Regions from separate parts of the Homo sapiens genome. Here all the other regions are linked to region 1. The links come from fine-mapping of genetic effects on gene expression. A gene starts in region 1. Each other region holds a variant in brackets. All regions are shown on one strand. Distances are from middle to middle.

Region 1 (10,890 bases):
TGGAGTCTCGCTCTGTCACCAGGCTGGAGTGCAATGGCGCCATCTCAGCTCACTGCAACCTCTGCCTCCCGGGTTCAAGTGATTCTCCTGCCTCAGCCTCCCGAGTAGCTGGGATTACAGGCACCCGCCACCATGCCCAGCTAATTTTTGTATTTTTAGTAGAGACGGGGTTTCACCATATTAGCCAGGCTGGTATCAAACCCTTTCCCTCAGGTGATCCACCCGCCTCAGACTACCAAAGTGTTGGGATTACAGGCATGAGCCACCGTGCCCAGCCAGGTGTCTAATGTTCTAATGGCTCCCTCTGAGAGTACAAGCTGATTCCGGAGAAGAGCTGTATTTGAATGCAAAGGGTAAAATAATTCCAAGGTGCAGGGGAAGTGGAGAGGGCTGATATTTCCTCTCACCTCCAGGAAGGGGAGGCCGCAATGGGCACACAGGCAGATGAGAAAGCAGTGAAAGCAGCAGAGAGGGTGGGATGCCAGGAGTCAGTCAAGCCTACTTAGAAGTATTTGGTCCTAGGGCTATTCCAAAAAATGTCTCAGAATTGTTTCCTGCTTTAAATCTATGATTTCCCCTGGTTTTATGAGTCAGCAAAGACGGAAAACAACTAAAAGGCCATGTTAATATTTCTTAATCACTAAACACACCTACCTCATTAAATCTTGGGTCTTACATATTTTCACCCAGCATATTGTTGGTACTTGATAAATATTTGCTGAATGAATGAATCCTTCCATGATTCTGGGTCCTCCCTTATACTTCAGAGGTGACTCAGTATTGGACACACTGAAATTTTAATGCTTGATGTAGCCTTCCATAAAATAGCAGTGTTTTTAAAGGTCTAGACCAAGGTGTCCAGTGGAACTCTGTCATGACGAAAATGTTCTTTGATCTGCTGCGATCAATACAATTGTCACTAGCCACACATGGTCACTGAAACTCGGAATGCAGCTGGTGAGACTCAGGAAGTGCCTTTTAATTTAGTTTAACTGGAAGTAGCCACAGGGGGCAAGTGGCTGCCCACTACATTAGCACAGCTCTAGAGGTTCTGTTAAAAGTTTTCTGCCCATCTCACTTTGAAAACCAGCTATTTTGACTAATATCATCAATTGTTATTCATAAGTTCCTGTCATTTGTGATTTTTATCTTTTTTAAGTAATTTGGTTTATTTATTACAACTTTAAAGTGAGTATAGCAAACCAAATGGACTTCAGCGAGAAGCCTCTCGGGGTGAATTTATTGTGAATCATTTTGAGGACTTGCAATATGTGGTCAATTTCTAATTTCAACTATTGACACAAAAGGAGAGAGCCTGTGTAGTTGAAACAGGGAAGCAGGAGAAGTCCGCTGGGCACTGACAGACTGGCCTCTCAAGCCAGCCTCCTCCCTCCTTAGGAATCTGGCACCCTCTAGCTGCCCTCGGGGTCTGCAGGAGCTCTAAAATCCCTTCCTATATCCCTCCGTGTCCTAGCTCCCTGGATCCTCTCCTCCCTTCCAAATCAAAATGTACCTTGAGGGAGAGGCTTGGGCAGGAGGATCTCTTGAGCCCAGGAGACCTGACTTGAGTCTGGAGACCTGCCTGGCAGAATCTCCAATCAGTGGTGATGATGCTGATTTTATGGATTAAAAACTGAGACACTGCCAAGAAGTGAGGGAAGGGAGCGGGGGAGGGCAGGAAAACTAATATTGTTTAAGTACCTACTATGTGCGTGCTAGACACTTCATATGATGCTCAGTAAAAATGCTTTGCCTGCATGAATAACTGTTATCTCCCTGGCAAGTAGAGTGCAGTATGTTTTTTTTTTGAATGGATAAACACATGAATACATTTTTACCACATGAAGCAGATATTAGTCCCATATCACAGATGAGGACACTGACATTTAGACAAGTTATGACTTCAAGGCTAAACACACACAACATTCCAATCACCTAATCTTGTTCTCTCCTTACTGTTTAGCTCCCTGCCCAGTTTCCTCTGTGCTCAGAATTTTGCTCTTGACCTTTGTAAAAGAACGACCAGCTAAACTGATCAACATATTTATACCAACGGATGCAAATATGATAGAACCGCCCCCAGCCCCCTTTTGCAAGGATCTTGAATGTTAATGACAATCTTCTGGGGACAATGTCAACTCACAGAAATGGCTCCCTCGGAATTTCACGCTGTTCGGGGAGGTATTTTGGTACTTTAGTGGCATTAAAAATATATTCCACAGCAGATATTTTCCTGGAGGCTGGACACTTACATAAAGACGACGCATTCTTTATAAATTAAACCTCAACAGTGTTTGCATTTATCTAAATGGATATTATTTCGAGGAGGAGACAGTGATTTGCGTATTAGCCCCTATCACTAGGGATGACTTGTAAGACACATTAGGAACTGGCTCCTCCCCTATCCCTTCGCCCCCTCCTCTCAGAACCTTATAAGCTTCAGAGTACGGTCAAGACAAGAGGAGCATTGGGAAAGAATTTGAAAATAAAAATACAGCTCCGTGATTTTCAACACAAAGACCACGAAGAGCATAATAATAAGTCGTGAAAAAAAATTCACATCCAGAAGTTGGAGGGCCACAAAGTACAAGTCGTCCAGGCCAGTCTGCAGAGACTGTTCATGCTTCCGCCCAGCAAAAATCTGGCAGGCGACACATCGCGACGAATTTCGGCTGCAGAAGAGGAAGAGCATCACCTGCAGTCCGCGGCGTGGGAAACGCCGCCGGAGGGGCTCCGCGAGCCGGGGAAGTGCGCGCAGCGGGGCTCCAGGCGGCTCCAGGCGCTGAGTGCGAGGAACGCCCGCGCTCGCCGGCGCCCGGGAGACGCAGCCGAAGGAGGAGGGCGGGCGTTTCACCCGCGCCACAGCTGCGGCCGGCCAGAGAGACCGCAGAGGCCGGGACCCCCGCAGCCTCCACGGCCGCTGCTGCCACTGTCGGGGTGGCGCGCCCAGCCGGAGAATCCCGTCCGCGCCCGGGGCGGGGGGCGAGGCGGGGCGCTGACGTCACCTCCCCTCCCCCACCGCCTCCAAGGGGGAGGGAGTGGGGAAAGAGGCAGCGAGTCGCCGCAGCCGGCGGCCGCAACTCCTCAACTCGGCGGCTGGCTGCCTGGGCACGTCCTGACAAACTTGGCTGCTCCCGGGCCCTCGTTCCGGCCCCGCGCACTCTCTTTTCGCCTGCGTTTGGTGCTTAAGTTTGCCCTGGTCGGAAGCCTCCGGAGATGCGGCCGCCTGGGTCCCGGCGGCACGGACGTTGGCACTCTGGTTAGGGACATGCTGAAGATCCCGGGGAGGCAAAGTTGGTACTTCAAACCCGGCTCTTAACACATATCTACACCGCGAGGGGATCACGGAGCTGCCGAGGACTTTAGAGCCCAGGGCCGAGGACTCGGCTAGACTGGTGAGTTCTTTGTTCAAATCGTGCATGCCTTTTGGCATTTAAGTTTAAACGTTAATGAAATTACGTGGGGTGTGTGGCTCTAAGCGAGTGCGGGGAAGCGTGTGCGCCCTACGGGTTCTCGGCTCCAGGAGCTGCGCATCCCTCTGGCTTTGTGCGGATCGGCGATGAAAGATTCGTATGCATAGCTTTGGGAGTTCATAAAATACATATAGAGCACTGTTAAAAAGAACTTGAGAGGCGATGCTGTTTGTGCATTATTTTGAATGTAACTTATTATAGCAATGGTGCCTAGGGAGGGCGCATCGGGGCCGCGAGATTTGCAGGGGCGCAGCGCCCTCTAGTCCGGGCACCTGGCGAGGCGCGCTCCTTGCAGGGTTCTGTGCGGAGGCGAACCTGGACCTCCCCGGCGCTCGGCGACGTGGGCGCTTGCTCACCCCAGTCTTCACTGACCACCCACCCGGGCCCATTCTTTATATGAGTTACAAAAATCAGCTTGGGTGGACTGGATGTAGAGGCCGTGCTGGAGGAAAGCGTTTTGTTTCTGGAACCGTCTCCCCAACCCCCTCCCTAATTTCCACGAGCCTTTGGGGACAGGGTTAGGGAGGGTCGATTATTTAAAGGACAAATGTGGAACTTGAACCACATTTCTCTCTCTCATATAAAATAATTCGATTTGTGGTAGCTAATAGGCATGTCCATTTCGTTCTGTTGGCGCTTAAGGATCAGTAGAATCGTGGCAGAGTCCTAAGTCTGAAATCTCCATCCCTGGCTCTCGGCGGCTCCTGTGGCGACGAAGTGCAACTTCTTCCAGGCAGATAGATTTCTCAGGGAGCCTGGAAAATCGGGATTCCCAGACAGATGTAAAACATCTAGTAAGCCCTAGGAAGCGTTATTACTTATTAATTAATGGTAATCTTCTCCAGGAATTCTCTTGTGCCATTTAAAAAAAATCCCGTGATTTTACGTCAGGGAATGGTATCTTTGTACTTTTTTTACTGTTCTTCTTTTCCCCTTTTAGCATTACTCCCGCTTCCTCGCTCCCAGGAAACGGCTGGAGTTCCGGTGTGTTTGGGTTTTGCTGAGATTTACAATTCGGCAAGCGGCACAAGCCGGTTGGGCTTGGAGATCAGGTCACCCACTTTCGAGGTGTTCCATGTATGAAATTGACCTGTAAGCACTTGGAGCAATTATGGCCGGGACAAACACGTCTTTGGATGATGGAGTTTGCATTTGCTGGATGTGTGAATCTATGTGTATTCCAACTGGTGGGCAGGGAATATAGGGCTACGAATCGGCACACTCATCTTGCAGGCATTATTTTTCCTTCCCAGCCACAACCTGCTAGACACCTTTATTATTATTATTTTTTCCGGTCACCTCTAAGATGGCTTATAAGGTGACTGCGTTAACTTTGAACCCAGGAAATTCTCTTTCACACTTGACTGCCCTGCCGTTCCCCTCCCCGCCAAGCTCCCCTCACCAGTCCCAGGGAAATCGGATCTCTTTGTCTTCCCAGTGTTAAAATGCCTGAGTCCCACAAACTTTCCGAGATCAAGTCCGCCCTCTTGTCCGGGCTGCGTCCCAGCGCCTCCGGCCCTCCGGGCTTCGGCCGAGTCCGCCCTGCGCCGAGCCTGCGGCTGGAGCCCTGCCCGCACCGGGGATGGGCTCCGCGCCCGGGACGCTCAGGCTGGGCGCCCGGCGCGGGGAGTTCTCGGAGCGGGCTTCTCGGCGCTGGGGCTTCCCCTCTGCCTAGGAACTTGCAGTTGTCGGCCTGGGGTCACGCTTTGGGGCCCCTGGGGCCGACTCCCGGGCTAGGAAGCCCGCGGGACGCCGCGACTGCCTTTTGTCCCACAGGCCTGGGCGTCCGGGGTGTCAGCGGGGGAGGCCAGGCGCCCGCGGCGGGGAGGGCCTGGGGTCTAACTCGGCAGAAAAAGGTCGCGGGGGAAGCGTTTCCATTTTCTGGGGATTGAAGGAGGAAGTAGATTCCGACCTAGCTGCATTCCTTTGGAGACCTGAAGGACGACTTCAGCCCACCAAACCTTCGCGGACCCAGAGCCGCGCCATTCAAATGCAGATTCAGGGGCTCCCAGAAGGCTATGGAAAAGCTAAAGGGATGCCTCTGGGAAGCTTTCTCATTAGGCCCCAGCCTTTTTTTTTTTTTTTTTTTTTTAGCTAAGCTAACGTTTCCCTTTCTTGGCAGGGAGCTTTCCCCAATTCCTTGCACAGCGCCTGTGGCTGGCCGTAACTAACCTCGGCATCACAAGCCTCGCCCTGCCCCTCGGAGCCGCGCTAGACCCCGCTGGGCGCCTTCTCGTCTCCCAGCACGGACCTGGTGTTCGCAGGGACTGGGGCTCTTTGGGTCCGGGCGGGACTGCGTGGCCGAGCCCGCGGTCCCAGAGCCGGCAGCCGGGGAAAGTGGGCTCGAGTTTCCGCGCCCGAGAAATGAGCGCCGGCGCCGGCGGGCGGGGCCGGGGCGGAGGGATCTCCTGCGCTCGGGGAGCGTGAGGCGCCGGCGCCGAGCTGGGCGGCCGGGCGCGGGGAGAGGGCGCGGGAGCGGCTCGTGCGGCAGGTACCATGCGGACGCGCGAGCCCGGCGAGGGCCCCGGCAGGCCCGGTCCCTGCTCGGGGGCGCGCTGAGACGGCGGGTGAGCTCCACGAGAGCGCCGTCGCCACTTCGGGCCAACTTTGCGGTTAGTTCGCTGGGGCGCGGGCCGGCGGGCGGGGGCGAGAGCGTGCAGCGCGCTGCGGTGCGGACTCTGTGGGTGTCCGCCCGGTCCCCGGCTCGGGCTCCGGCGCTGCCGAAAACGGATGAGCGCGCGACTTCCCGGAGGGTGGAGTGACTCGGTCCTTCCCAGTTGGGAAATTCAGCACTGGCTAGGGGGGTCCCGGCGGCGGAGCGGGAAAAGGAGGCGACCGCGCGGGACCGATCCGGGGCCATTGCTGGGGTCCGATCCTTTCTGACACGCCGCCTTCCCTCCGGGAGCTCGCCGGGCTGCGCCGGCCTCGCGGTCTCCTGGGGCATCCCGCCGTCTGCGAAAGACCCGCTCGCTGAGCGGTGCACGCGGGAGGCCTGCGCGGGGCTGCCGGGTCCCTGGGTCTCTGGGTGTTTGCGCCCTGCAGGAGCGCTGCCCGGAGGTGCAGATGCAACCGGTGGACTGCGGAGTGAAGGGCTGCGAGGCTGCATTTCGGGGCTGAACATCTGCACAATGTGCGGTTTGTCAGTGTTTTCTGTCTTCTCTGGAGGAGGAACTTCTAAGATCTTTTTAAAAGAAAGAGTTTTTGGTCCTTCATTGCCTTTAAAAAAAAATGCTTTCTTTTAGAGAGCCAGCTTTCTGCTGTGTGTTAGATTTTTTTGTTCCCGCTGATGTGAATTGCAAGGCTTTGGAAACAAGGACGCAATTGTATGAGTTAGGAAAGTAAACTCATAAATATTTTCTATGCAGTTAAGTTTTTTTTTTTGTCTGAACTGTGGTTTCATTAAGTGGCTTTTGTTAAGCAATTCCCGGGTGCCTGATAGAGGCGATTTTTTAAAAGTGGATATTAACAGTGATTATTAGTATGAGAAAAGATTGAAAAGAAAATGACCTTCAGATATTCATTTCCTTTTCAAAAGCAGATTCTTAATGCTTCGTATATTCAGATACAGGTTTCGATAGTTTAAGAAGGTATCTGTGTGTGAGAACTAGGTAATGGTGATGTTTTTCACACTATTCTTAATGAGTTTGGTTATGCTGTCCAACACATCCAGTTGTTACAGGGACGTTTGAAAAGGTGTTTCTCCAGTTAATAGTTAATTGTGATATTTGTCTTTGTCTTTTTGTCTTAGGAAGACAGCTCTGATTCCACAGTTAGAATTATTCCTTTGTATTTAAGATGTAAAAATACTTAAAGCACTATGTAATTTTTTAAAACAACAATTGGTATAAGCCTTGAGTGATGCTAAACATGGCATTTAACAAGCTCAAGGTAAGGTTTGATTTGAATGAAGTTTGCATTTGTATAACCATTTTTTGAAAAATGAACACCTTAAATGAGCCAAATTCTTTGGCACTCTGGAAAGAAGTGTGGTTGTTAGAGGACTTTATAAAATCATTTCGGGCCACCTGTATATTCATTTGTCTCTTTTGAAGTATCCCCGTTGGGTTCTCATCATGTTAGTAGATCATTTAAATCCATGGTCCGGACAGGTGCCAACAGAAAAATGTTTAAAAATTATGGCCGGGCGTAGTGCCTCACGCCTGTAAACCCAGCCCTATGGGAGGTCGAGGCGGGCGGATCACCGGAGGTCGGGGGTCCGAGACCAACCTGACCAACATGGAGAAACCCCGTCTCTACTAAAAATACAAAATTAGCGGAGTGTGGTGGTGCATGCCTGTAATCCCAGCTACTTGGGAGGCTGAGGCAGGAGAATCGCTTCAACCCGGGAGGCGGAGGTTGTGGTAAGCCGAGATCGTGCCATTGCAATTCAGCCTGGGGAAAAAAAAGAAAAGAAAAAGAAGAGAAGAAAAATCTTTAAAAATTATGCACAAACTAATTCTGTTTTCATTCCCCTGATCATCCTCTACCTTTCCATTGCCTTTAGACTTTGCTTTGAGGTCCCTTTGAAGCAGTCGTTTCTTTGAATGTTAGAGGTGGATAGGATCTTAGAGATTATGTTTTAACACTTTACCCGCTTGCTTTCCACCCAAGTTTGGCTGATTTTACGTAGAATCAATCAGCCAAATCAAATTAGTACATTATTATTGCATTAGATTCTGTCTCAGTGGCATAATTTGTAGCCTAAAGGACCTGATTTAATAGCAGGGAGCCGTAAGGCTGGATGTGCTGTTTAATCTTTATGAGTGGGATTTGCGCTAGATAATTGTTCTTTTGACCAAATTATGTAGAAGTTGAAGCCAAACTCTATCTTTTGGTCTCACTTAATTGTTCAGTTTGCAAGTGCTTATTTATCCTTAGACACTGGAGAAGAGTTTTTGAAATGAGTGATATACATCAGTTAAGATCAGGAAGTTGCCATTTTCTCATACCTGAGGGGAACTTTTCATTTCAAAAATATATTCTGATGAGGAATCTGCATATTTCACTCTTTTAAGTTTTTTAAGTCATCTTTTACTGTAAGTCCCAGATTTAAATACATTGCCTGAATTCTTGCTTAATTCCAAGGGTTCATTATGTATGTGAAGATAAGTCTATAAAGTAAAAATAATAAAGGCTTCTATACACTGCTTAGGAAATATTAGTCATGATTTAATCTGTATCCTTCATAGAATATTAAGGTTAGAGCTTTGTGATAATCTGCAACACAGACACTGATCTGGCATTATCTATAGCCAATTTTGAGGCAGCGTAAGGTGGGTGGTGACCTCTTTCTGAGCTATTGGAAATGAGTCCTCTACAGAGCAGCCACCTGCAGTGTTGTTACCAGCCTCGTGGTTGTGCCTGGATTTTCTGTTAATTTGAGAAGGATGGATGTTTTATTTTCCTATGTTATCCCTCTCTATATCCCCTCCCCAACACAGTCCTGCCTCACATTTCTCACTCTTAACGCTTTATTCATCTGTCCATTTACCAATCCAACAATAGTGGACCTCCTCTGTGTCAAACATTGGGCCAGACACAACATCTAGTGCTGAACAAATCGTGTTTCCTGCCCTCAAGCAGCTCGTAGTCTGATAAGGGAGAGGACAAGTACACAGTCTCTTATAGACCAGTGTGATAAGAGATCCATTCAGGTCAAGGTGGTCCATAGCAGCACCTCAGTGAGCTGGGGGATCTGGGGCAGGTGGATTTAGGATAATGTGAGTTCTGAGGGAAGTGTGAATCAGAGGGGAACAATTCAAGCAGAGGAAATGATGTGTGCAAAGCAAGTTATAGAAAGCATAGTGTGGCTTGTGGTGTGATGAGTGGAGAGAAATTCTGAAGACCTCACCGTACCATGTTATCTTAGGAAAAGGATTGGCTTCTTTTTTTTGTCTAGGTAGAACATAGAGAATCTTGACTATGACTTAAATAATCTTATTAAAAAAGGGAGGATTGTTTTTATGAGGCAGAGGTTAAGGAGAGAGAAAAAGAAAGAAACGTTGAAGAGAAAGGTGAAAACAAATAAGCTGTATGTGAGGAGTGGAGGGCAGGAAACAAAGAAAATAGTAATGTTTGCATTATCTTTCGGAAGGGAAGAGGTCAAGATGTTACATTACTTTAGAGCCTTCACCACTAGGTGGTGTTATTGGCTCAAGACAGCTTGGTTACTGAACTTGTTGCAAGTCTGGGAAGTATGCCTTTTTGTTTTGAAATAAGAAGTAGTGTTGGGAAATTAGGAAATTAGTTAGAGGTTAGATTATCAAAGGTCTTTAATGCAAGGTTAAGAATCATATACTTAGCAGGCTAAGGGGAAATACTGAATATTTTCAAGCTAAAGAATAATATCACAAAGAAGTTTGAATAGGTTGACTGGGATTGGGGGCAGAAAGCAGGAATACCAAAAGACTGTAGGAATACTCTGCATGAACAAAATACCCATTCTAACTAGGTGGTAGCAGCAGAAATGCAAAGGGAACCATTTTGAGAAATTGAGAAAGAAATGTCAAGTTTGGATAACTTTTGAGAAATGAAGGTTTGAGAGCCAGGAGGCTGTAAAGATTTTAGTCCATCCTTCAATTTCTCGAATACATAGAGTCGAAAGGATTAAGCAAGTTCCTTGAATTCACACAGTTGATTAGTGACAAAGCTGGAGCTAGGTTCCACATTTGATGTTCTCCCAACCCCTTCCTTTTTGTTTGATTTGTTAGTTTGCAAACTTGGTTGATTTGGGAAGTGGTGAGATTGGAAAATAACTGGAAGAGCTGTTATTTTGCAATGGCGAAAGGGTGAAAAGTCTATATAGTTGTCCCTTGGTCTCTAAGGGAGGTTTGGGATTTTATACCCAAATCTGAGAATGCTCAAGTCCCTGATATAAAATGGGGTACTATTTATATTTTTACTGTTTTATTGTTTATTTTAAAGACGTTCTCAACCTGAGGTTGGTTGGATCCATGGATGCAGAACTCTTATATAGTGAAGGCCAATCGTATAACTTAGGTTTGATGGTATTTTAGGAGGAATGTTACGAGGTGTTTGAGAGAGGTTAGAGCTGAAATTGCAGATTTGGTGCACTGATCCTTCATGATTTGAGGCAGAGTAGATGAGATCTTTAAGGGTGGTAATAAATGCATGTGGAGGAAGAGTTGGAAGACAAGTTTGTAATGCCAGAGTTGTAGGTGAGTCAGTGTAGAGTATAAAAGAGTATGGAAGAGAATCAGGAGAATGTTGTCATTCATTTTTCATACCTGTGGATTGCCTCTTTGTTTTGGGGGACTCTGTGACCGAATGAAGGATCAGGAGTGTTGGGGAGGGGAGTGAGTGGTGTCAAAGGTGTCATGAAATCAAGGAGGATGAGCACTGAGAAAAGGTCATTGGTTTGACATTAGCTTGTGATGCGGGAACGGCTGTTCTGCCA
Region 2 (10,890 bases), 450 kb before region 1:
ATGAAGAGGAAACGTCTAGATTTCTCCAAACTTATAATCAATCAGCTAAGTTATTCCACCAGGAGTGGAGAAAGTCAAAGATTACGACAGCCGTGGATCTCCCTTCACCTGGAAAAAACCATCAGGAGTGGAGAAAATGTATTGTCCCCGGACAGAAAACTGTGCCAGGAAGTTTTTCATATGCTGAAGAAAAATACATAAGGAAATGTCCAAAGTTCAACTTTATTCGCTGAGTTTCAGAAAAAAACAAAAGGCTAGCAAAACAGCTACCATATTCACATATTTACAGTCCAGTTCACTAAAGAGGAGAAAGAGAAGCCCTTGTGGAAAAATCACTTAATATGAATCTTTCCAGTGTGCACTAATAAAGCAATTATTAAAGTGGCGGTTGAGAGATGACATGAATCACTAACAGTGAGTATCAGAGAGGTTAATAACTGGGACATTTCAACTATACTTTCAAGAATCACATTTCTGCTTTTATTTCCTCCTTTTCACTTGTAAAATTTCGTTTCAATTATCTTTGAAGGAACATTCTTTACAATGGAAACTTTAAACTCCTTTTCACCATAAATCCTCACTTCTGTGATGAGACTGAGACACTGCAGAAACGACAGCGCTGACCCCTTACCTTTGCTTGTACAACACATAGTTTTAGGATCAGTTCCTTTGATTACTCTTTAGTGTGTTGGAGAGAACATTTCCACCTTTCAATATCTGTAAAAATGCAGAGTATTTGTCATTATCCCCTATTTAGCAGATAGCCTGTTTACACCAGTACTCAGCAAAATTATTTTAAATACAAATTTGTTTTGTTAAATAATTCATAACAATTTCTTACTCTTCATGGGTTTAAAATGATGTATAATAGTAAGGCAGATTTCTGAATAATTTAGGCCAATCTTCCTACCCTATTCTCCTACAAAAGTTTTTATGTCAGATTCTCTAAATTTGAACCAATATCTGCCTGATCTAAAATTTCCAAAATCAGAGAAATACTGAAGCTGGAAGGCACGGGGTCTAATGCCCTCATTTTGTAGATAAGGAAACCTGGACCTAAAAAGATTAAGTGGAGTGACAAAAATCACAAAACAAACTATTTAATAGAGATGGAACTAGGGTTAAATTCTTCTGACTCCCTGAAAAGACTTTTCAATACCAGTTGTCTCATTTACAGTTTACTTCTTTAGAGCTAATTTCTAGTTAAAAATTCAAACTCCTGGATGATATTTCTAAATCCCAGTTGCTTAGTTTTACACTTTAATTTGATAGCACAGTTTTTATATGTTCTTAATATGGTGTGATTCTACAGAGAAGGGAAATGGTTTTTTTATTGCTCTTACTGCTGCTTTTGTAGCACACACAAAAAAAGTCACAATATCAAAAATCTTCCAAAGCTTAGGTTTACTCTATTCAACTCTAATTTTAGTCCACAATTCTAACTTTGTGAAGGGCATGCATAGGCCCTTTCCATTCACTAAACGTTTCAGTGCTTGGGTTTGCTTCCCCAGACTTGCTCATTCATTCAGAGGTGACTCTCATTACCCGCATTTTGCAAGGGTCCCCTTGCAGCTTCCAATGTTACAGTCACATGGTACACATCAGATCAGCTCAGATTACAGAGTTAGGTACGGTTACGTTTACTTACTTCTCTTTGGTAAAACGCTAAAATGTCCCTGTCTGTTTATTATATTAGAAGATGGTTAAGTGCCTTTCCTGAATAAGAAGCCCTTATGTTCCACTTGGCTGTGAGTAACTTAAAAGTCTCTGGAGATGATCATGTCTGTTCTCAGAGGTTCTCCCTGCAGACTGATTGTGTAAAACAAATCTGCTTCTTCTCTGGACACACTTGGAAGTCTTTCCCCTCTCTTGTTCCCACTGATTTAAAAACCTGTTTCTCTGCTCCAGATCAGAAGAAAATGTTACTTTCCTAGTCAAAGATTTTGCATTGACCAAGGCTAATTAGATAGTCCAATTTATCTTTCAAAATTTGAAATCAAGTTTTATTCCCCTCAGCAACAATTTCCACCAATATGGTGTGACCATGTGATTTCCCCAGTAGACAAGCATATGAATAAAAGAAGAGCTGTTTAGAAATATCTTGATAGAAAACGAACTGTGAAATTCATAGCATATGTCTACGCCGTGGGAAACAACTGCTTCCAAAAGAAATGAGCCTAATTTTCTGACCCACTGGTGTGAGAGTGAGTGGACTTGGATCAAGTGCAAAGGAAGCCATCTGAGGATCTAGGGCCCCAGAGGAAGGGAACACGCTGAGGACCCTGCCCTTTGAACAGGTGAAGGCCCAGCTAACTTCTAGGCTCAGGACTAGGAGGAGATGGAATCATTATCGATGGTCAGATTGAAATAACTCTGGTTAAAATAGTCACATAATTGAAGCAGGATTCCAGTTTTAACATTGAATTATTGATTCATTCCTCCCTTCCTTCTCCATGTACAAACGCAGCCTAGCAATCTGAATTTGCAATTTAAAATACACTTTCTAAATGTCCGTCTGTCTCCCCTCCCCCTCTTTTTGTCTTTCCACAGCTTCAGCCAAAAAAAATAAAAATGGAATGGAATTTCTCAGAAACTATTAGGGAGCCAAAAAATATGCAAGATGCATTAGGGTTATGTCAGATCTAGGATCTAAGGAAAATAAGACATCCAGGAAATGTTTAAAAATCAGATCCCATCTAAGAGGACGCAGTCTTTGGATTGGCGCCTTCATGACCAGCAGGAATGATGCAGGAAGGATTATAGAGTCACTCATTCCCCAGTCAGATCTCACTTTTCCTGACGGCAAAATAAAACCGTGTCTCCACACAGCAGTAAAATTCATATTGCACTGATCAGTCGGGTTTTTATTGCTGATTAGGTTTCCTGAATAAAGAAAGTTCAGTAGTAGCCTTAATGAAAAAGCTTCCAATTTGATGGATGGGGAGAGTTTGAGCCTCATTTACTAGTACTATTTTGGTTAAGGTCTTCAAGATTTTACCAAATTGTCCTTGCAATAGTTTCAGCATATGCAACCGGCTGTTTTCCCAGCAAAAGAGCTATTGGCCTGGAAGCCCCACGAGCACTGCAGAGTGGCAAGTGGAAGGTCACAGACACTGCAGTGCACGGGAAAGTTCAGCAGGGCTGGACTGCAGCCTCATCTGTCCATGACCGCTGCACCATGCTGAGCAATTCACTTCATTTCACGGGCCCTACCTTCCTTCTCTGTAAAATGGGAAGTTGGCCAGGGGCCGTGGCTCATGCCTGTAATCCCAGCACTTTGGGAGGGTGGGGAGGCTAGAGTCCAGAAGTTCAAGACCAGCCTGGGCAACATAGTGAGATCCCCATCTCTACAAACAATTTTTTAAAAGTTAGCCGGGTATGGTGATGTGTGCCTGTAAGTCCCAGCTACTCGGGAGGCTGAGGCGGGAGGATTGCTTGAGGCTGGGAGGTTGAGGCTGCAGTGAGCCAAGATGGTGTGACTCCACTCCAGCCTAGGCGACCCCATCTCTTAAAAAAGAAAAATGCCAGGTGAAACCACTATGGCTCTAGCAACAGGAGAAAGCAAATGTTCTGATCACATTGAATCTGAGTTGTTTCCTGAGGACACTTCAGCCAAAATAACCACAATAAAAATAGCGTAGCATAAGGAGTTTCTACAGTAACAAGGGTAAAATAGCCAGAAGAAGTTCCTGTCAGATTTCTTGCACATTCCTCTGTTTGTTTTCATGGGAAAAGCTATATTTTTACATAGAAGCAGCAATATAATTTGCTATTGAGATACCAAGGTTCATATGTTTGTTCATAGATTGTTTATTATAAAAAAAAAATGTAAAGCCTGTTCACTCTAATCTGTGTGTGGTGGGGGAAGTTGGGGGCGAGGCAAGGACTCTCAATAGTGCCTTTCAAGTGAGCTCCGAAATAGCAGGGAACGATGCCTGGCACAGAGTAGGGCTCAACAGTGTTTACTGAAGAATACATTCATATACCGAAGAGCATCATGTTATTCATAACTTTGTTAGCAACTGATTGCATGACAAACAAAATGGGAAACATTAAAATATTTTAAATGTTATATAATTTATTTTTTGAAATGACTGAAAAAGAAAATAAATGAAAAAAAGGGGAATTTTTGCCACGTCGTGGATGAAATAGGCTTTTAAAGTGATAGTCAGAGCCTGACTTTTTTTCTATGATACAATATATTACAAGTTAAAAAAATGACATAGCTGCAAATTACTGAAAGACAGTCCGTCTGCAAGAGGAGCACAGCTCGCAGATAGAAACCACTGGGCCATGGAGAACTCCTCAGGCAACTTTTAGCAAATTACCTGCTGGCATTTTCTACAACATACGGCTGCAAGGCAGATGCGGAAAGTCTGCACTTTCCCTTCAGGCTGGAAGAGACGTCCGTCCTCTCATGCGCACGTGGGGTTGCAGGTAGGGCATAGAGGGTGGGCACCAGGAAGGACGCCATGGGAGACAGCCTGGGGACCCCTTTTCTTTTTCCTCGGGAGCAACTGCCCCATGTAAACCTCTCCCCTCTGTCCCTCATTTCTCCTCCCTTCTCCCTCTGTCTTAAATACTGGCTTAAGTGGGAAGTGTGGACAGCAGCCCCTGACCCGGCTGGCACCGAGGACATGGTCAGAGAGCAGCCACCTTCCAGAAAGCCCTGTTCCACCGGGCGCTGGCTGCTCCGCAGAGAGCCAGCCACGGGCGGCAGCCACGGGCGGAGTGGACGGCCCTGGACCCCGAGACGGGGGCAGAGCACCTTCCCGGCCCCGCCAGCCTCTTCCATGACCCCTCTGTCCTGACTCCTCCGTGACCGATACAAGACACTCAGGTGCCAGTCCCAGGAAAATCCGCTTCCTCCAAGCACCAGGGCTCCAGGCTCCCAATCACTCTCTTCTCTTTCTTCGTTATAAACAATTCGCTTCAGGGATCCCGTCAGTCCGTTATGTGTTCACGTGATACAGTGATTTGCCCGTGAGGATGTGACAGCCCACAGATGTTTGTATACTGAAGGACATCTGGTGTTCTCATTCGTAATATGTGGGGGATGCTGCTTCTGAGCAGGGGATTTTATGGCACCAGAGTCTCTGATGTCTTCAAACTATTCAGTAGGAAATAAAA[C/T]ATAATGAAATAAATTAACTGATTTATGTTTTTTAATCTTTACCCAATGGAGAGGTAGGGTTCTAATTTCTAATTTTTCGTAACAGACTGAAATTCAAAAAGGTTGAGCAACTTACTCAGATCTACATAACTCCATATTCCAAATATTATACATTTTGTACTTCATCACATAAGAATTTTCAGTAATATTCAGAATAATTAATTTTGAAAGCAAATGCAGAGTCTTTTCTATGTATGATGTTAGGACACAGGATCATCATACCTAAAATAGCAGGTGCTTGTAAGCTAGAAAGACCTGAGATTGGATATCAGCCCACCTGTTCTGAGACTAAGGGAAAGGCCTTCAAGCCTTCTGAGAATCATTCTCATCTGTGTGACGAGGGATTATGAATGTTTACCTGAATAGCTGTATTTAAATACTCCAACGAGTAGAAATAATCCTTGTTTAATGTTTCATATTTTTGAGAAGAAGAAAAATGGCCTGTTCTTTGGGAACTTATGTTTTTAAAAAATTACTAAAAGATACTAACAACTGTTATCATAAGTGCCTGTTTATTATATCTTCATTTTAAAAATATATATCAATCATAATGGTAGAATAATTTCAAAAATCTCTCTTGGAAACCCAAAACATACCAGTCTGGTGTTAAGACAAAAAAATGGAATGTTCTCCCAAATGAGAAAAGTAACTTCTTATTCTTGTGCAATGAAAAGAAAAAATTAAAAAAAAAAAAAGAAAATTAACTTCATAGGTTTTCACATAGAATGCAAACCCAGGGGTAATGCTGAAGAGACTCTGAGTGCTTCAGGGTTACGTGGAGGCTCGTCTTTCAGCCTCTGCAAGGAAATACTGGAGACACACAATAGGCAGGTCCTTCATGACCGAAAACCTTGCCTTCAGCTTTGCTTCCTTTCCACCCATCCCCTAGTGGCAGCAATTTATGGAACTGTCCAATACATAGAACTTCTGAACCATAAATAGAATTCACCAGAAGGAGCTTAACTATTTAAATGAAGATCATAATTCCCTCCCAGAGACATCATACATTTAAAAATCCATTCCATATAGCACGTTTAAAAAAATTTTAGAGACGAGTGTCTCACTGTGTTGCCCAGGCTGAACTCGAGCTCCTGGGCTCAAGCCACCGCCCTGCCTCAACCTTTTCAGTAGCTGGGACTGCAGGGATGTGCCTGGCCACACGTATTTTCGAGCTCCTTGTATGTGCACAATTTTTGGTGGCCATTAGAGAAGATGCAAAAATGATTAAGTGAAGGCAAGTTCCGGGAATTGACGTGGGATGGGAATGGCAGCCTAGCACACAGTGCCGTCAGCCTGGAGTGGGTGGTATAGCAGCTCCCCTCTTCGGCAGTTTCACTTGCTGGCCTTTCAGTTATTGGCAGGCAACCGAGAGTGAGATCACATGTGCATAACTTTTATTACATTATATTGTTATAATTGTTCTATTTATTATTTTATTGTTAAACCTTATCCTAGGTATGTATGTATACAAGAAGATATAGTATGTATAGGTTTGATACTATCTGCAGTTTTAGGAATGCACGAGGGGTCTTGGGACCTATTCCCCAAGGATAATGGGGATAACTATATAAACAAGTAGCATGGGATGGTAGAGGTAGGAGCATTGCTGCCTGGGCCACTTAGAAAAGGCTTTGGAGAAAATGACATTTGAGAATATATAGAGAATGGGAGGAAGGTATAATTCAGACATAGAGAGCAATGTGAGCACAAGGGAAGTGTAAATATGAATGATGCTCTGAGCAACAGCAGCAGGTTTTCTAGTTTGACTAGAGCAAGGAATACATGGTAGCAAGAGGTATCATTGTGTTAGGCAGAGTAAGGTCCCCCATTTGTGTCCATGGGCCAGACCTGGAACCTATGAAAATGTTATGTTTCATAAGGGGAAGTAGAGTTGCTATAAGCTAACCCAAATATAGGGAGATTATCTGGGCAGCCTAGCATAATCAGGACGGTCCTTGTAAGTAGAAGAAGGAGGCAGAAGAAGCCAGAGAGATGTGATGTGAGAAGGACTGACCTGCATTGCTGGCTTTGACAATGGAAGAAGGGGCCCCAAGCCGGGGAATGCAGGCAGCCCCGGAGGAGCAGGAGAAGACCAGGAAATGGATTTTTTTCTCAAGACTCCAGAATGACATGCAGCCCTGAGAACACCTTGATTTCAGCCCAGTGAGACCCACATCATGTGTTTGAGCTACAGAACCACAAGATCCTGATCCACATCACATGTCCGAGCTACCAAACTGCAAGATTGCGATCTGTGTTGTTTTAAGCCACTGAGTGTGTAGTCGTTTGTTACAGCAGCCACAGGAAACTACCAGAGAGGAGAGTGGAAAGCTTTACCGGGCAAGACTGGGAGGGCTCAGGTGCATCGCAGCGACGTCTGGACTTTATTCTAAGAATGTAATGCGTGAAAAGGGAATCACACGATGGATTCTGTGCTTGGAAAGCTGAATTTGCAGGCAACGTGGAGAGTACCCTGGAGGAGAGAGTGAGGCTGAAGGATGGAGGAGCACTGAGGGGGTTGTTGCAATGACAAAAGGCACTGAGTTGGTGCCATCGGTCTAGAGATAGAAATAGATCTAAAGACATAGTCATAAAACAGGGTGTCGAGCTAGTGCCACAGATGTCACATGCCTATTTCATATGTCCAGTGTCGTAGAGCTGGAGGTTCAAGGAAAGTCTCGGTAGCCAATTTGAAGGCTGGTATAGGCCTATTTCGCAAAGCTCAGAAACCAGAACCAATTCAGTTTCTCTAAAACACTAACCAATTTGTCTCCCTTTTCAGGTTTTATTATTGATAGCATTCAGATCATGTTTTCAGTCATTCATGACTATGTTTTAAAATTTCTCCCAAGATAAAAAAATCATGCAAAATAGCAACTTAAGAAAAGATTGGTTTGGTCAGGGCGTGGTGGCACATGCCTGTAATCCCAGCACTTTGGGAGGCCGAGATGGGTGGATCACAAGGTCAGGAGTTTGAGACCAGCCTGGCCAATATGGTGAAACCTCGTCTCTACTAAATATACAAAAATTAGCCAGGCATGGTGACAGGTGCCTGTAGTCCCAGCTACTCGGGAGGCTGAGGCAGGAGAATTGCTTGAACCTGGGAGGCGAAGGTTGCAGTGAGCCAAGATAGTGCCATTGCACTCCAGCCTGGGCAACAGAGCGAGACTCCATCTCAAAAAAAAAGAAAAAAGAAAAAAGAAAAGATTGGTTTGGCAATGCAGTCTTCTGTAACTCAACAATATAACACAGATGGCTGGACTCAGAAACCTAGGGGTCCAGCCATACTGCATAGAACTCAGAGGACAACCGGAGAATTTCATGTGTGATCACTTTCTCAGCCACAGCCCAGCCGGATTTGTATCAATACGACTAGATATCTTATTTATCTGAATAAACCCCATTCCTGCAAAGTATTTGGAAATAAGAAATCGACCCCTTTTATATTAGTTGCTTTCACTCACTCATCTGGAAAAAAAAAAAATGGACAATGGCTAAAGGCCAGGCCTTTGCTTGCTGGGCATGGGCGGTAGCACTTCCCTGCCCTGCATGTGCTGAGACTCTCGGGGAGGCCATGAGAGAGTGCATTTTTAGAGGGTGTGTAATAGAGGCGTGCACTAGGCACAGGAAAAGCACAGAGCCCAAAACTCAGGCTGGAGAATTAGCAAAGGCTTCTTGGAGGAGATTGGTTTTGAAGGCTGTATGGGAACCGCTAAGACAGAAGGGAGGGCAGACAGAACGCAGAAGAAGATAGAGAAAATAAAGAACAGTGGAGCAATATGACGTTTGTCCATCAGCCTATCCCGCCACTGAAAGTTCCCCCTGGGAATCTGGCACTGTCTCTCCTCCTCCACCCCTCCCACTTCCCTCAGGGTGATCAACACAATGATAAGAACACAGTAAGCCCAGCTGAGACTTTCACCAGGACAGTAAACTGGGCACACATATTTATGGCCCTTCCTACTAAAAAAAAAAAATTTAAACAACAGTTTTAACGTACCACATGGAGTCAATTAAGACAAAATAAAAATTGCAAGAACTTGCAGGATGACATCAGCAGGCTGAAGATTTTTTAAATTCTGGAAGTGCCCACGAATCAGATCAATATAGCTCAGCACACAAGAGGAAGGAGTACGGTTGCTCAAGCGAGACTGCGTGGGTTAGGACCTGGATCTGCCACTCACAAGCTGTGTGACTTTAGACAACTTACCTAACCTCTCTGTGCGTCAGTTTCCTCATCTGTACAATGGGAATGATAGTAAGGCCTATTGGCTAGGATTTTCATGAGGATTAAATCCAATGATTCATCTAAACTGCTTTGAATAGCGTCTGCTACATTGTAAGCACTGGATCCCTACTTTCTATTATTATTTTTACATTAGTGAACAAGTTAGAACAGAGCGAGCTACCACTCAGAAAATGCTGGAGGAAGCTGCAGTGCAAGGAGCTGTGTTACCCGAACCAGGCGTACACATTTGAAGGGACAGCTGCAGGTCAGCAGACACTTAAGGAACAGCAGTACAGCAGTAACACAAACGAGAAGAACCACGGGAGAGAAACAGAACAACCCCACTGCAGGAAACACAGCTAATTGAGGGAAAAGAGGAGACCATTAAAATAATGCCAGCAGTAACCTCAAAGAGACTCAACAAGAGGAGATCAACTCTGACAGACACACAAGAAAACCGTACTAGGCTTCTATAAAAAGAAGCAGTAAACACTTTTTTAAAGATTATGGAAATTAAAGAATAAATAAAAGTATGTGAAATAAAAGTAAAGGAAATGCCCCAAAGGAAAGAAGAGAACAAGAAAAATTTTAGAGTTTAGAATATCATTGCAAGGAAACACATCCAATAGGAATTAAAGAGAAAGAGAACAAAAATGATGGGAAGCAATAATCAAAGTAATAGCTGTAAAAAAGATATGCATCTTGAGATAAAATGCGTTTGTCAATCACTGAATAAGATGAAAATTTAATTCAACTTGGAGATCAAGAGTGTGAGATTAATTTTACAGAACAGAGCATAACTGCCATTAATCGTCAAAATTTAAAGTCAAAACAGCAGAAGCTGGAAGACAAAGCAGAGCCCAAAATTTCTTTCTTTACTGAGCAAGAGGACAAGGCATATTTCTAAATTCCATAGGTCAAAAATAGAGTTAAGTATATATTATATGATGTTATAAATATAACTAATATATAAACTTGAATTTTTAAAATGTTCTGTAAGAAACTGTAAGGAGGAAAGAATAGGAACTAAATTTCCCATCTGTTATAGCATGTAGCTGATGTTTAATGCTGGTCAACCAGGAAACAAGTGAAAGCATAATATTGAATTAGGGCTTATAGCCACCAAAAAAATTAAAATTAAAAAAATGGTGAAAGGAATTACATCTAGAAAGAAGGACTTGGAGATGGAAATGGAAAGAAATTTAGCATTTCAGTTTGTAACCTTCTCCACGATTGAAATTGTTGATACTCTCCATGAGGAATCAGTTTTAGAATAAATAAACAAATATGCATGTGTCTAAACATATGCTTCCAAATTGAATTGAAAATACCTAGTATTATAAATTCCAGTTGCGGTTGCAATGTGATAACACAGCCAGCCATGCTTCTCTGTGGAGGACGAGATAGTAAATATTTTAGGCTCTTCGGGCCAGGCTGTGTCTGACAAGCCCTCAGCTCTGCTGTGCAATGTGAAATCGGCCGTTTAGAGAAA
Region 3 (10,890 bases), 200 kb before region 1:
TGCACACACAAACACGCACACACAAACGCACACAAACATGCACACAAACATGCACACACACACAAACATGCACACACACAAACATGCACAAACTTTTTTCAATAATGAGTCAGCCAAGTAACAATCTTTTCTGTTCAAACGAGGATCTAAAAATAGTATGTGTAATTCAGCCCAAAGTCTTTTTGCAGAGACAAAAACTGCATTCTAAATCCCATCGAAAACTTCATACCAAAATTTAAAATTTATTCTAACTACCTATATTCCTTTCTGTCAATAAAAATTACGCTCTTGCAATCAATAATTTGAATAAAAATTGGAATTGTTTCCAACACTGGCATTGTACTTCTTTGGCTTTTATCAGAAGTTTCACCAAAATGAAACAGGCATTTTTAAAAAGCGGAATGACACATTTGTGGCCTGAGATAAAAGGTGGAATCTGCTGCCTTGTTGCCTGCTCCCTCTCTCTCTCTCAGGTTCACTATCTGTCAAGTCACAAACCTAAGTAAAAGGTGATGTAAACTATAAAGGCAGGTCAGCAACTACCAAATAAAAGTATTCTACTCTACTCAGAAGGCTGTTTTCTTTTTTGCCATTTTTGTTGAGACAAATTGCACTAACATATCATCCACATAGTTGGAAGTAACCAGGGTTTTCTTCACCTATAGAAAAATCAGCTAATTGGATTTGTCATTGCATGTCATAAGCACAAGATTTAAATACAAACTGGAAAGAAACACGTTCAATTGATAAATAGCAGAAATCACTTTTGAGAGTGATTATATGGGAAGCAGTTATAAGTTTCATTTTTTGGCCTAGAAACTTAAATTTTTACATGGAATAAACTGGGCATAAATCATATATTAAAGTAAAAAGGTTTATCCTAGTGGCTGATTTAAAAAACATTAATTTGAACTCAACTTATTAAATTTACTTACAATTTAAAGTGGATAATTCAGATAATTATCTGGAAAGTAGAATTTTGTTGAAAACATCCTCACACTGAAGTAAAGGTATTAGCAGATTTGATTTATTTCCACCCTTCTTCATCTTCCTCTTTATCATTGTCATCATCTTCTTTTGCTTTGGTAAATACAATGAAATTACTATACTTCCAACTCCATAGTGTAAAAACTCATAGCACCCTCTCTCTGGCAACATACAAACATAAGCTCTAATCCTAGTACGAACCAAATACATAACCTTCATAAGAGTGTTCTTCAAGATAGAATATTAGTAAGTTGGCTACATTTTTGTACACTTTCTACATATACTTTGATTGGAAATAATTAATCCTAAAAAATATACAAAACTGCACAACCTATAGGATGTTTTTACAGAGAACTTTAAAATTCCACAGTCATAAGGTGAAAATCTCACCTCCAAAGGAATTATTCCTTTGGGTGTACCTGGAAGACAAAGTTAAATGAAGAATTGTTGGAGTTTATTACATGACATTATCAAGTCTAGAAGTACAATATAGGGTAAAATATGAAGTAACTGATTCTTAAAAGTTCTTTCTCAGCCAGGCGCAGTGGCTCACGCCTGTAATCCCAGCACTTTGGGAGGCCGAGGCAGGCAGATCACCTGAGGTCAGGAGTTCGAGACCTGCCTGGCCAACATGGTGAAACCCCGTCTCTACTAAAAATACAAAAAGTAGTCAGGCGTGGTGCAGGTGTCTATAGTCCCAGCTACTTGGGAGGCTGAGACAGGAGAATTGCTTGAACCTGAAAGGCAGAGGTTGCAGTGAGCCGAGATCATGCCACTGCACTCTAGTCTGGGGGACAGAGTGAGACTCCATCTCAGAAAAAAAAAAAAAAAAGTTATTTCTTTATTCTGAAGTCCAGTCTCACAGCAGTAGGAAGTATATGCTTGACTCTGGTGAATCGCGTTCCTATATTTAATGGTCTGCCAAAATGTGAAATCAGGAAGGAATTTTTCCTGAGAGCACTTTAGAGTAGACATTGGGTAGTTCCAATTTTTTTTCCCGCTGCTCTGAGTTAGGATCTGTGAATGGGGATTGATGTTAGTGAAGACTCAAATCAATATGAAGAGGCGATTGTCTGCATCGTCCTTCCTGTCCAGCTCTGTGCCTCCCTCTAAGACATAGCATGTGCAATATCATTTCATCTGCAAGCTCCTCAGTGGGTGAATGAGTGTTCACTAAGTTATAGCTTCCTCGGTGCTGGAAAATTGGTGTCACATGCTTTGTAGAAGCTGGTAGTTAGACCATGAGGACCTGCTGTGCTTACAGAGGCTGTGTAAAGAAAGTAGAATGTAACAAAAGGAAGGAAAGGTAGCAAAAGGAGCTGGAAATTGCATGATAGCCTGCAACTTCTTTTCCTAGTCCAGACTACTGTGAAATATATATTAAAACTGAACTTCTTGGGGGAAGCTGTCTAGCATAAAATTTAAGGTCTTCAAATTAAAGAATTGTCCAGAAGATGATTTTGTAAAAATAAAGAGAAACTAGTAATGTAATTTGAAATTATTATAAGGTTAAAGCATAAACAAATACACAACAAAAGTGGGAAGTCCCTGAGTATTCTATTGTTTTTCTGTTCCGTTAAAAGTACTAACAGAAAAAATTACAAATGTGTTTGCAAGTGTATAAAAATCTGACAAGATAAATATTTCATACTAATAGTCAGTCTTATTTGCCTATAAATATATATATATATATATATATATATATATATAATCTCAAAAGCAAATCAAACATATTATTTTATAAATTTTTGTTTAAATCCAAGGTTCAAAATTTACTGTAGGGAAGAAAAAGTAGTATCTTTTCCTTACCCATTGTAAGGTTCATGACTGAGACCCCTGTAACAAAACACAGATCAACAACAGAAACACGTAAAAAACGTATCTAACCAAAGTTGTATGTTACAGGGACACCTTCAGAAGTAAAGACCCAGAGACCCAGGGAAAACTGTATTTTTATGCTTAGGTTTGATGGAGAATAGACGGCCTGTAGGAGGATGACGGAACAAATAGTGGGTATGAGCAAACAGTCATTAACTGGGGGGTTTAGCAAGGGCTATTTATTCAGATTCCTCTTGGCCTCTGAGGATAGGGCAGGACCCATCTGGAGTGAGGGTCTTATCGGCCTTCTTCCAGGGGACGTAGGTCAGAGAACTCTCTTCATGGCCTCAGAGGAGAAAGGCAGGAGAAGGTAAGAGAGTGACCTTCCTAGAATCTGGGGTTTCTCATTATCCTTCAGCTTAAAACACTCAGGATCCCAAGGTGCCATATTTTGGGGAAGCATTTCCTGCACTCGATCACTACAAACCAAGGAAAGTAGTATAACTTTTTCAAAGTCATTTATTCCCTACCCTAAAATGTATCTCTTGCTGACAGTATTCGTGATGCATGTCATTTTTCCTTGATTTTATAACAAAAGAAAATAAACTTATGAATCTTAACAGATTAATTCTCATATTTACAGATGACTACATTTTATGATTTCTTCTTGTGTAGGAAAACCATTCCTTGAGAAGCTGGATGATGTTATGAAGTTCCTAGAAGCCGTAAGATGCTTAACCTTTTGGACCTCTGTGCATGTGCACATAAGTTGATACTTAAAACCAACAAACCTGAACAGAGCTGCCTTTTAAAAATGGCTTCAGAGTAGTTTGAGTGATTTCAGTGATGCAATTTTACCTGAATTCATCAGGGATGAAAATCAATGGCTGATACAGCACATCTGGTGTTGTTTCCTGTTAGTTGCTCACACGGTCTGGAGTCCCTGAGGATCCATACTGCGGCACATAACAAAAAGCAATTGCTGGATTGATTGATATTTCAATACGTTGACTTTTATGAAGGTGAGTTAGACTTCACAATAAAAAGGGGCATATTGTTTTGTCTATTTCTTAAGATATTTATGTTCCCACTCGAAATGTAAATAATCCCTATGATTGTTTGATGGGATGAAGCAAGCCAGCACAAATCTGGGTTAATTGTACTATCAGATTTCTATTATAGCTCAAAAGAAAAGCATTTAAATCATCAAAGTTTTGAAACCTTCCGATGAATGTCCGTGTAAAAATTGTTTTTAAAGCCCAACAAAATGTGCCTTTTATTTTTGCATTTCACTACAAAGTGCAATGTAATATAGCATTAACTAAATTGTGGTCCAGATGAAACCAGAGCTGTCTTTCAGGGTCTCATCACATTTCTTTCCATGTGAATTGTAAAATGAAAGGCCTTTGCCCGGGCATGTCCTCTGTGGACTCTTCCTGCAGCTGGATCATTTCATCATTAGACAAAAATGAATACACACTTTCTCAGTGATCCATAGTACTTTACAGTTGTTGTTGCTTTTAATTCTCAGATTTGAATTTTCTATGGATATAATTTCCAACTATTTTAGCCATGGCTCTACACTGAGCTGCTTCCAATATAGCACTTAATCAGAGCTAGTTCTAACTCAGAGAATAGATTCTAAGAAAATAAACTTACCGAGCTGAGGAAGGAGAGAAATTAACTGCATTCCATTTCAGAATGTGACAGGCATCATGAAAAGAATTCCCCCCTCACAGATGTATATTTTCCTTATCTGTTCTGCACTTGTTCCGTACACTAACACTAACAAATGGAAACCATGTGGTTATGAATCCATTATCTATGGTATATTTTTATTGTGGATGATTCCTTAATGTAACCAAAATGTCAGAGTCTAGTAAAATCAGATTTGACGATATATACAGAATGTGATTGTTAGGAATCTTTTAAAACATTTCTGAGTGTTTTTTAAAGTAAATTTCCTAGCATTCTTGGAAACACAGTATTGTTTTCAAACTCTGAGAAAAATCCCTTTAGAAGATTTCTAAAATGCCAGAAAAACAGGGGTATCTTGAAGCACCTACGCTAGTTGATCTCCCTCTCTGAGCAGTTTTTGCCTCTTCCTGCTTTGTTTCAGTTTGAACTGTGATGAAAAGTGATTTTAACATTTGACATCCTGGTGTATTTCCTTTTATAAATAGTAAAAGTCATGTAAATTGTTTTGTTTAACCTTTCTGTTTGGACCACCAAGAATCTGAGAAAACGCGGAAGTCCACCTTTAATTACGCTTAAGACATCGCGGCACACACATCTGCATCATTACTTTGCACGGCCTGCATAGCTACGTCCCTGCCGCCTCCTAACGCCACCCGAACCTTCTTTTGTAACTGCGAGCCCCTCTCTCCCTCTTTCTCGCTGTTCCCGCAGGATCCCCTGCGGCATTCCCAAAGACCCAGTACAATGTCTGTACATGATCTCCTTTTGGAAAGAGACTATTTGCTATTCGTGACCCATTCCTGTGTTGCTTCCACACCCTACCTCACCCCAACCCACTGAATCATGTGCAGCGCGGGGCAGGCCTGGGCAGAGCGGCTGGCGCCTGCCTCTCGCTGACATTCGGGAGGTTCCGGGTCTCCAAAGCCCCCTAGAACTTGGCCGCAAAGGCCTGGTTCACGCCCTGGGCGTGTACGGTATGTGACGCCAGCAAACCTAGATCTCAAA[T/C]TGATACAATATTGGGCTTCCTACCAATACAGGAGACTCTATACTTTCAGCCTAAACTTAAAAGAAACATCCTTTGAACTAAGAAAAAACATAATTAAGTCACCCCTCTTAACACTAGGGACAACCTCCCACGTTTCGGGTCCTCTAGCTGCCTGTTTGTTCCCTGCTCCAGTAGAGAATGAGACACTTGCTCCCCTCTGCTTGGTTCCCTGGCCATCTCCCATCATCCAGAAGTGCCATCCTCATTCCCGTACTTCCAGCCCCTCCTCGCATCCCGTAAGTCTACACATCTTAGAGGTGCAGCTGAAGGAGTGTGTTCTTATTAACATATACTGCTTACCAAGGACAAGCACAAGAGAAAAGGTGACTTGGAGAATAACAAAGAGATCTAATGTGACTGAAAGAATAATTCTTTTTTAGAATAAAATTTCTAAAAAGAGAAGAGACTAGTAATGCCAAAAGATGACAGTGCGTGACCTTGTGCATACATTTCCTTTTATTTCCTCCAAGGGCCCTTATCACAGACCATAACTAATATCACCCCCACTAGGGAAGAGTTTTCCATTGGGCAAATATCACTATAAAACTCGAATGCTTTTATGCCTCTCTAACCAAAACCTTAAGGGTGGAAGAACTTGGTCTACTGTGACCTCATCATAACACTTTACAACGACTTCAACCAGGCCTCCTTTGAACCAATACATCTGAGCTCTGCTAGAGAAAGTTTATGTTGTTGTTCTTGGTTTCCTTGGTGTTGTTTTGCATTTGTGGTGGCCAGCATGCTTTGCCTCCCTACTCCATTTACAGAGTTACATAAATTTTGATTCTGCCACTTACAGCATCATCTCAAATATGTGAGGAGGGAGGCAAGAGACCTCATTTCTTGGATCCTCATTGGCCTTCCGTAAATTAAATAAATTAATAATAACTATTAATTGAGTGGTACTTATTAAAAGAGTGAGGATTTAAAAAATAATAAATAAAATGTTTAGGGCAGTATTTGCTACATAGCAAGGATTCAATAAATCTCAGTTACAACTCCCATTCAATAATAAAAGTCCTTTTCGTTTCTTTGTTTCTGCTGTGTCCAGTCATTGGCCACCCTTCTCTTTACTTTCGCTTTCTGTTTACATTACCTCCCTAAATGTGATTTTTAGAAAAATAAGATAACCTGTAGTCCCAGCTACTTAGGAGGCTGAGGCAGGAGAATGGCGTGAACCCAGGAGGCGGAGGTTGCAGTGAACCGAGATCGTGCCACTGCACTCCGGCCTGGGCGACACAGCGAGACTCTGTCTCAAAAAAAAAAAAAAAAAAAAGAAAAATAAGATAAGATGCGTATTCTTATCTCCCTTCTTGGTCTCATCTCTCTTGCTTGTGGAATGAAGAAAGGACAAAATTACTGTGCCACATTGACTTCCCAGGACACATCACAAACTTTCAAAAGTCCATGCTTTTGTACATCCTGTAAACCTCTCTTTGGATGAAATCCCCCGCCTGTTTTGTGTGTTTGCCAAATTCTTGTATATCCAAGAAGGTGAGGTCCAATGCAGTATCCAGTGTGAAGCCTTGCCTGGTTTCCCAAGGCCCAGTGAGCAGTATTGTCCTTGGTGCTCCCATAGATAGAGCTCAGAGTTGCCACCTCTCTGCCACATGCAATGGGTCTCTTATGTGCCTCTTTCTCTCATGATACGCTGAGCTCCTTGAAGACAGGAACTATGAACTATGGGTTCTTTAGTTGATGTCTGTACTTTCTAACACATGGATGCTCATAACTCAATAGATATTGAGTGTCTATTATGTGTTACTCAATATATTGAGTATACTCAATAAATACTTTGATACTCAATTAAAATATTTTGAATACATGAGAGTCTTCTACCTGCTTTGGAAAGAGGACAAATTATTCATAAAAGCACACAAAGGTGGCACTTTGGGGCAGCAGAATGCATAGAAAAGTTGAAAGAAGAAAAGAGAAAAATAGGAAAAGCAAAGCAAATGATGCAGGAAGTATACCACACAGAGGGATCCTTTCATTTCTTCTGTGTTCATTGATTTATTTTGACAAAAAGTGCTAGAGCCAGATTTCATAAAAGCTTTCCCTTTGAGCTCTACCATGCTTTATAAACAAACTTAGCTTGTTATGACATACAGCTATTCCCAGACAACTCCTCACCATCACTTAGAATCTTCATCATTGGCAAGATTAAGATTCTAAGATCAGATCTTACAGAATTTTTAATCCAACCAAATCATAACTATTTACTATAATTCTTAAATTTCTGTCTGAACAAAACTATCAATAGCTTTTACAAATTCCACCATGATACAAAGTTAAAGGTCGTTTTCTTATTAAAAAGTATGGACATGTTCATAGACATGTTCATATTTTATTCACGATAAAATATAAGGGCTAAAAATTGGAACAGATTGTTAAAACTACTGTAAATTGTTTTACTATGAATCTTTAAATTCCCATGTAATTAATTACGTTAAAATTATGCTATTAGACATAAATTACTTCAGAGATAACTGTAAAATACAAGATAACAATAAAATTTACAAAATTATTACCAGAAGTAAATTTGATAGCTATGACTAAATTACAGGCAGCTCTAATTCAAGCTTTGCTATCAGCAACTTACTGTATGATGATATAAAGTCACAGATGGGTGTCTCTGATCATGGGCTATTTCAGGAGGTGACAAGGTCTCTGACAGGCTTCTTCCCAGCTCACACTTGCTAGGAAATAGGTCTTACTCTGAGGACTGATAGCCGATTTATTCTCAAAAGTCTGTGTTTAATCCCCTAAATCCTTCCTCCAGAGTATATGGGATATCCTCTCATTCTTTCCCTATTGTAGAAGTCTTTATTTTAAGAAAAGAATTATTCTATGCCAAAAAATAGGAAATACAGAGAAAGAGATATTTCTGAAGGCTCCACAATTTTAAACCACAAAATTAAGTAAGGGACAGAGGGTCCCCTTTAGTTGGTTTATTCCTATCTTTGGCACAAGCAGCAGTTCTCAAACTTAGTATGCTAGAAACTTCTAAAGAAAAATAATCTAAAAAAACTTTTAAGTTATCTTTTAAAAAGATAAGAAAAGTATTGTAGAATTATTGAAATCTGCAAATGTAAACCAATTTCAATTACTGTTGGAATCTATTTTGAAAATAACATCTGAAATTAGTTTTTAATTCTTGCAGACATTAAAAAGAATGTCTAGTCCAGCAACAATTTCACCATCAAATCACTGAGGGAAATGAATAAATGCTAGTTATCGTTCATTCATATAATCCATAGATAATCTGAGCATGAGTCAAAATTTCTGGCCATTGCTTACTTTTGTCTTTAACTTGGAATATTCAGCCTGCTATGGAAACCTCATGCTCCATGACACCTGCCTGGCTTTCATTTGGTGTGACGGCATTCTTTACGAATTAGGTCAACTTGAATTATTTTCTTACTAGCTCATTAAGAATGAAGGTACTTCTAACTGCCAATTTTAATCCCAAAGAGGAGTTTACTTTTGTCTCGTCAACTACAAAAAGAATTTCCCATCAGGATAATGGTGGACCCTCATGGCTATTGTTATTTCATGCCACTTCAAAAGCAACCAGCATGCTTCCCAGCACAGCAAAAGCTACATGCTCTCATGTTAGCACCAGGTCAGTTTTAAACACAAACCCAGAAGCAGGTTGGAAATGCGGCTCAGTTATAAAGCGGCCATCAAGATCATGCAAAATATGCTTCTGCTAATTTGCTTAGGGTAACATCAAAACAAAAACATTGAAAAATGCTGGTAGAGAACTCTCAGATCCCAAAGAACACATCTAGGGAACTGCTGAAAATCTCCTTGAAAAGCACTGAATTAGAGGATCGAACACTCTTTCTTGGATCCTGGAGACCTGCCTAAGTCAAGTTCCTAGACATTCTCTAATTTGAAAGTCAGGTATTCTCAATAGGGTCATCATCGTAAGTGCATGCACTCAATGAAAATACCACTTTTTTCTGAGTGTGTGCTGTGAACAAGACAGATAAAGCCACCTACAACAGGAAGTCATGTAACAACGAAGTTCAAGGGACATTTACCAATGATGACCAGAGATGTGAGCGTGGAAGAGAAGCACACTGAGGTATCCCTGCAGCAAAGACGGCCACAGCAAAGACTTCCAGTGTTCAGCAGGACAGTGGGTTTGAGTAAACAACAGCTTCTACTAGCATAATAAAGGCCAGCAGATGAAAGATTTCTGGCAGGTAGGATCAGAATTTGCAGAAGAAAATCCTAGTAACATGCCCCACCTACCAAGGAAGACCTCAGATCTGCCTTGCACTGATGGCATGAACATAATTGGCTGCAAAATATAACACTGTCCTCTAGATGTCTCAAAACTGGTGTCTAGCTTTTAAACAATCTCCTAAATACCTGCAATGTCAGGGAAATCTGCTGAAAAGCAATTTAGTTAATTTAGAGAGTTTAACATAGTTAGAAATATTTATTTTTATAATAGGTGTCATCTTAAAAGTATAAACTAACAGCTCCTTCATTAGGATGTTTGTGTCCTGCGTGTCACTAATTTCTCACAGTGATGCTATGAGGTCATTGTTATTCCCAGTTTCTGGATGAAAAAACTGAGACTTAAAGAGGTTAAGTCAACCAAGGCGGTTTTCATCATAGCTATTAGTGAGTACTAAACTAGATAGTATACATATTACCCATTATAGAGCAGACACCTTCTTAAAATATAAACAGAAATTGTATTTTGTGCCCATTAAGTTCAAACTCTTCAGGTCAGTCCTTTCCTCCACTTCACAGCATGTCATACATGATATATGAAGTGCAACAGCTCTTTCCTCTTTTGTCCTATTTTTCTGTACCCACATATTTTCCTCCAGTTCATGCAAACATATTTATGGTGTACATTAGGGAAAAGATAACCTAACAGAAAACTTTTTTTTTTTTTCTTGAGACAGAGTCTTGCTCTTTCGCGCAAGCTGGAGTGCAGTGATGCCATTGCAGCTTACTGTAGCCTCAAACTCCTGGGATCAAGTGATTCTCTCATCTTGGCCTCCCTAGTAGCTGGGACTACAGACATACACCATCACACCTGGCTGATTTTTAATTTATTTTATTTGTTGAGACGGAGTCTTACTCTATCACCTAGGCTAGAGTGCAGTGGCGCTATCTCAGCTCACGGCAGCCTTAACCCCCCAGGCTCAAGCAATCCTCCCACCTCAGCCTCCCGAGTAGCTGGGATTACAGGCATGTGCCACCGCACTGGCTAATTTTTGTATTTTTAGTAGAGATGAGGTTTCATCATATTGCCCAGGCTGGTCTCGAACTCCTGACCTCAAACAATCATCCCACCTCAGCCTCCTCAAAGT

Direction of the effects. Positions count from the first base shown, and alleles are read on the strand shown. Sizes are in standard deviations (SD) of each study's normalised expression. Not every link is listed here.
As copies of T replace C in region 2, the expression in fibroblasts of the gene that starts at base 5,893 in region 1 goes down (small effect, 0.17 SD a copy in GTEx).

What was found.
Region 2: its variant is fine-mapped to the expression of FAT1 in fibroblasts (GTEx, PIP 0.97).
Region 3: its variant is fine-mapped to the expression of FAT1 in sun-exposed skin (GTEx, PIP 0.96).

What each region holds. Positions count from the first base shown.
Region 1 is chr4:186,718,859-186,729,748 of GRCh38, reverse strand. FAT1 (FAT atypical cadherin 1) reads left to right here and starts at 5,893. Exons shown (of 27, transcript NM_005245.4): 1 at 5,893-6,085. RefSeq lists enhancers at 2,767-3,268, 4,451-5,450, 5,951-6,452.
Region 2 is chr4:187,170,555-187,181,444 of GRCh38, reverse strand. No RefSeq gene overlaps it. Among named protein-coding and RNA genes, the nearest start is that of LINC02374, 26 kb to the left of the region's middle. The variant C/T (reference allele first, on the strand shown) is at 5,131.
Region 3 is chr4:186,914,029-186,924,918 of GRCh38, reverse strand. All of the region lies in intron 1 of LOC102723906 (a long non-coding RNA gene), which reads right to left. Among named protein-coding and RNA genes, the nearest start is that of FAT1, 200 kb to the right of the region's middle. RefSeq lists an enhancer at 3,530-4,729. The variant T/C (reference allele first, on the strand shown) is at 5,509.